2 separate regions of the Homo sapiens genome follow, and region 1 is linked to region 2. A link means that fine-mapping ties the variant in region 2 to the expression of a gene that starts in the linked region. Tissue or cell type: whole blood. Region 2 holds a variant in brackets; the other region holds the start of a gene. All regions are shown on one strand. Distances are from middle to middle.

Region 1 (2,747 bases), 49 kb after region 2:
GTGCCAGGGCTCTGCCCCCACTCAGCACACACCTCCCGAGACCCCGCTGGCAGGAAGATCCGAGTGCGTGGGGGTGGGGGGGCAGCGTGGGAGGGAAGACCTGAATACCTGGGTGAGACGACAGGATCTTGGGGTCTGGAGAAAGCCCCTAACCTTGGTCTTCACACAACACATGGCTGCCACATCCCCTTCCTCACAACCCACGTTGGTCATTACCCGCGTGTGCCAGGACCTCAGGGACTCCCCACTTCCTACAGAGCGTGGCCCGGTCTTTGGCTTGGCATCCTGACCCCATATGAGCATCAGCTACAAGGCGCTGAGGTGCAGCGGGGTGGGGCGCTGGGCGGGGGGGCCTGGGTCTGTCTGGATCTGACTCGCCCTTGGCTGGCGCTGTTTCCCAGCAGCAGCCGGAGGTCGGCGCACCCGGAGGGGAGGGTCCCTGGAAGATGTCAGTGGGTCTGGGAGCGGGCTTCCGGCGTTCCCTGCACCGTGGGAGACCAGCCTCTCAGGGGGAGGGTGGTTCTGCGCTGGATCCTCGGGGCCTGTCATGGTGCGCCCAGGAGGGCAGGCACGTGAGGACAGGGACTGGAAACCAGCAGATTTCCACCCTGAGGCCTGCACCCCCGGGCCTCATTAGGGAGAGCCCCTCAGAGCCGGGCTTCGTTGGTTCTGGGGCGTCCCCCATGAGCAGGGCCGGGGAGGGGCCGGTAGACCCAGGCTCGTCTCCCAGGCTGCAGCCCACCTGCTCCCCTCCCCCGCCTGCCGGCTCCGGTCCTCGGCGTCTGCCCTGTCCCCGGGGACCGCTTTTCGCGGCTCAAGCGTGTTCCTGCCCTGAGCCGGCTCTCGCCCCGTCTCCCGGGCCCGCCGCGCTCTCCCCGCGCCGTCTCCGTCCCGGTCCCTCCCTCCCGCCGCCTCCCTGCCCTGCCCCCCGCCCCGCCCCCGCCCGCGGCGCGTTTCTCCCCCGCCTCCCGCGTCCGTCTTTGCAGCCCGCGCCTCCCGCATCGCCTCGCGTCCCCGTGGCGCCCGCCCGCGCGCGTCCGCGCCCCGCCCCCTCCCGCGCGGTTCCGCATTGGCGTGCTGCAGGGCGCGGTGCACTGCGCCGCCACCGTCAATAGGTGGACCCCCTCCCGGAGATAAAACCGCCGGCGCCGGCGCCGCCAGTCCCTCTGGCTGAGACCTCGGCTCCGGGTAAGGACGCTCGGCCCCCGGGCCTCCGCCCCCGCCCCCGTCTTCCGAAGAGGGACCCCCGGGGCCGGTCCTGGGGGGCAGAGGGTGGCCGGGCCCCGCACCCGCCCCCGCGCGCGCCCGGAGTCCGGCTTCCGGGGGTCCCCGCGTCGGCCGGGCTGGGCCCGGGGTGGGGGGCGGCGCGGGGCGGCGGGGCCGGGTCCTGGGCGGCGATCGCCCCGTAGCCGTGACCTTGGGGCCGCGGGGACCCTGCGGGCCGGGGGCTGATGGGGGTCGGGCTTCGGGGCGCTGGGCCAGAGGACGCTGAGGGAGGTGGTGAGATCTGGGGGCCCTGGCCTCCCCACCCCCACCCGTGTTCCCACCCCAGGGTGGCTTCTGTCCTCTTTCCCTCCCCCAGCCACCTGTCCGCGAGGAGCAGCGTGGGTTTCTCCACTGACCTCTGTGATGGGACAGGGCTGTGACCCAGGGTCCTGAGTCACAGGGAGGGGGGGAGGGAGGGTGCCCCCTATACCCCCACGGGGCCGAGGGCATCTCCACCTGGCACTTGCTGGGCTCGGCAGGGCCGGGTCCTCCTTCCTCAGGCTGGAACAGGGACCCCCACCTCCCGGCCGCTGTCTGTCCCTGTGAGAGTCCGGGAGGGGGGTGCCTAGAGCTATTCTGGGTTCCTAATCTGGGCAGCGCATCTCCGTCGGGGCTCTGGCCCAGCCTGCCGGGCAGGGATGAGGGGAAGATGGCGCCGTCCCTGCCTGAGGAGGGGAGTGGGGAGCAGTGGCCATCTCTCCCCGGTGGCAGCGGGTGGGGGTGGGGCGCCGTGTCCCTGGCCCTGCCGCCGGGGAGGGGAGTGCGCGTGCAGGACAGGGCCCTGGAGCGCTGGGCAGGTGACTCATCACCCGGCTCTGCTGGTCACGGACGTACCCAGCCTGGCGCTGCGTGGTCTCTCCAAATGGTGGCTAACCCCTTCCCAAGGAGCAGCCCGCGGGCTCCAACGCCCAGTTATTTACAGCAGATGGGGCTGTTTGGGCTCAAGTGTGGGGTGGGGGCAGTGCACAGCCTCTGCTTGCCCTGGCCAGGCCCAGCTGTGGGTGGGGGCCCTTCCCTCCCCACCAAACATGGGGGCTTGGTTTGTGGGCAGGGATGCCTGTCCAGCCTGTGCCAGGACAGTCTCTGCTGGTGTCTCCCCCTGGGGCTCCCCATCACCGGTCTCCCCACCACCACTGGCCCCACAGAATCACTGCAGCCCCCCTCGCCCTGAGCCAGAGCACCCCGGGTCCCGCCAGCCCCTCACACTCCCAGCAAAATGGGCAAGGAGAAGACCCACATCAACATCGTGGTCATCGGCCACGTGGACTCCGGAAAGTCCACCACCACGGGCCACCTCATCTACAAATGCGGAGGTATTGACAAAAGGACCATTGAGAAGTTCGAGAAGGAGGCGGCTGAGGTGAGCTCCCCAGGCTATGGTCTTGGCCCCCTGAGAAGGAACCCCCAACTCCCGTGGTGGCCAGGCTTGGCATCTCCCAGCCCCAGGGCATGGGGCTCAGGTGACCTCCTCCAGGGCAGGA
Region 2 (2,747 bases):
CAGCCTGGGCGACAGAGTGAGACCCTGTTTCCAAAAAAAAAGTAAAGAAAAGAAATGGTGGGCAAAAGCCTCACCTGCACGTGAGGAGACGGCGGTGGGTGTGGGGAGGAGACGGCGGCGGGGGGAGTGGAGGGGAGGAGACGGCGGGGGTGGGTTGTGGGGAGGAGACGGCGTCGGGGGCGGGAGGAGACGGGCAGCGGGTGGGGGGAGGAGAGGGCGGCGGGGGCGGGAGGAGAGGGCGGCGGGGGGAAGCGCGGGAGGAGAAGGCGCTGGGGCCCCTCGAAGGCCACCCCCAATGTAGTATTTACAATTCTCCACATTTCTCAACACCCCCCACCACCCCCAGCAGGGCACCTCTCTGGTGCAGAGCCTGCCCTGAGCCTGGCGATGTCCAGTCTCCCAGGGCCCCTGCTGGCTCCAGGCTATCAGCCCGGACACAGCTTGGCTGCTGGGGTGCCCTGAGAGCCAGGCCACGGGTGTCACTGCCACCCCACAATGCACACACCAGTCCCCAGACGTGAGGTTTCTGAGAAGCCCATCTGTGACTCCAGGGCAGGCAGGTGCGAGGGGCTTGTCATTGGCTGGACACTGGTCACGCCTATTGGAGGGATGCATTCAGCCACACGCATGAAGTGGGGGCATGGATGCGTGTGAGATGTGGGAAAGGGGCGTGAGGCTCCCTGAAGGCCACCCAGGTGCGGAAGGGGCTGCTGGGGGAGGCCGGCAGGAGGAGTGAGAGACTGCAGATGGCCTCACCCCACCCCCGTGCCTCAGGACCCAGAGGGGAGGTGGGAGGAGTGAGAGACTGCAGATGGCCCCCACCCCACCCCACTCAGGACCCGGAGGGGATGTGGGAGGAGAGAGAGACTGCAGATGGCCACCACCCCATCCTCCTGCCTCAGGACCCTGTACCGTGCTGCTGGGTTTTGCTGGGATTTGCTCCCCCAGTCCTGCCCCGATCTGGGGACCTACCTGAGCGGGCAGAGTTTGCTTCAGCATGCGGGGGCTTGGCGCTGTCCAGGGAGAGGGTGGGAGGTCCCCAGCCAGGGACTCACCCGCCGCCCCTTCTCCGTGTGCTCATCCCCCTGAACTGGGGCCAGGCGTCCGCAGCCTCCACTTCCCCGCAGTGGCCTTTGGGTATGGCCTGGGCATTGACTGACTCAGAAGCCGGTCATCGGGCAGCATGGGGCATCTGGGTGCCTGGCCTGCGGCCGAGCTCCCTGCAATCAGCATCTCGTTTTACTGCATGAAAGCCGGGGTGCTGAGAGCCCCCTCACTCGCCTGTCCTCAGAATTTACTGCAGAGGCCGGAGGCTCGGCACCTGGTGCAGGGTTAATGATGTTAAAATATCTGGCCAACACTTAAATAAGCAGGCAATTTTTCACCTGAGTGCAGCTCAGGCTTGGCAACCACTGCAGGTGCTGAACAGCAGCGCTTCTCCGTGGAACCCCCACTTCTCCGTGGGCACGGGCGGCTGTTGGACTGTGGTGCCCTTGGGCATGGGCCAGGCCTGACTGGGCAGAGCCATTCCGCCTGCCTGGGCCTTGCAGAGGGCGGGAGAGAGGCTGGCCCTGCCCACCCCGCCCTCCTCGGGCCCCTCCTGGAGCC[C/T]GCCCCCGCCCCAGCCCAAGCTGCCCTCTGCCGTCGGGTTGGGGAGGGGACGGTGCACTCCAGACGCCAAGGAGGTCGAGGACAGGAGGTGCTGTCGGTGTGCCTGAGGCAGGGGGTCCGCCCTGCGCCCCACCCAGCCCCAACGCCAGCCCGGACGCCGGTGGGAACCGTGTGCCTCCTGGATCCAGGGGACCTCTGAGTGACCGCAGGGCCGGGGTCCCCTGTCACCCCACGGCCAGGGCAGGGAGCGCTGGACACCGGGTCCCACCGGCCCTGCCAGTTCCTCTTCCGGGCTCGCGGGCTCCCATGGCCCTCGGGCCCAGCGTGGTGACCCCGGGGGATGGAGCCGTTCCTCAGGAGGCGGCTGGCCTTCCTGTCCTTCTTCTGGGACAAGATCTGGCCGGCGGGCGGCGAGCCGGACCATGGCACCCCCGGGTCCCTGGACCCCAACACTGACCCAGTGCCCACGCTCCCCGCCGAGCCTTGCAGCCCCTTCCCTCAGCTCTTCCTTGCGCTCTATGACTTCACGGCGCGGTGTGGCGGGGAGCTGAGTGTCCGCCGCGGGGACAGGCTCTGTGCCCTCGAAGAGGGGGGCGGCTACATCTTCGCACGCAGGCTTTCGGGCCAGCCCAGCGCCGGGCTCGTGCCCATCACCCACGTGGCCAAGGCTTCTCCTGAGACGCTCTCAGACCAACCGTGAGTACCTCGGCCTCGGAGTCAGAGCCTGCCTCGCCCCCAGCTGGGGAGTCCAGAACAACGGCAGGATTTTGAGTTGGAAATCGCATGTCCGTGGCTATCTGTTCATTCATTCGTTCATCCACGCATTCATTCAGGGACAGCTGATGGGCCCCGGGCCGGCAGGTGTGGTAGGAAAACAGCAGTGTCCGCTGTGGGCTGCCGAGAGGGAGAGGAGGCTCCGGCAGGCGTGGTCAGGTCCTGTGGGGGGGAGCATCAGCTGCACCAGCTGGACACCCAGCAGGCGGTTCCTCCAGGACCCTGCCTGGCTGGCCAGGCCCTCCCGCCCTCACACAGGGAGTCCAGTGTTCATGGATCGGTCACTGCTTGGAGGGCAGGGGCTGGGGGCTGGGAGGCACCAGATGACAGGAGCTCCAGGAGCTCTGGGTGACGGCAGGTGAGCA

What was found. PIP is the estimated chance that this variant, and not a neighbour inherited with it, causes the effect.
Region 1: it holds the start of EEF1A2, and the variant in region 2 is fine-mapped to the expression of EEF1A2 in whole blood (TOPMed, PIP above 0.99).

The regions. Positions count from the first base shown.
Region 1 is chr20:63,497,499-63,500,245 of GRCh38, reverse strand. It overlaps EEF1A2 (eukaryotic translation elongation factor 1 alpha 2), which reads left to right and starts at 1,163. Exons shown (of 8, transcript NM_001958.5): 1 at 1,163-1,188; 2 at 2,412-2,626. The coding sequence starts at 2,483. It overlaps LOC124904955 (a long non-coding RNA gene), which reads right to left and starts at 1,964. Exons shown (of 2, transcript XR_007067719.1): 1 at 1,623-1,964. RefSeq lists enhancers at 529-1,098, 1,359-2,154.
Region 2 is chr20:63,546,665-63,549,411 of GRCh38, reverse strand. It overlaps SRMS (src-related kinase lacking C-terminal regulatory tyrosine and N-terminal myristylation sites), which reads left to right and starts at 1,663. Exons shown (of 8, transcript NM_080823.4): 1 at 1,663-2,304. The coding sequence starts at 1,949. RefSeq lists an enhancer at 1,949-2,590. The variant C/T (reference allele first, on the strand shown) is at 1,609.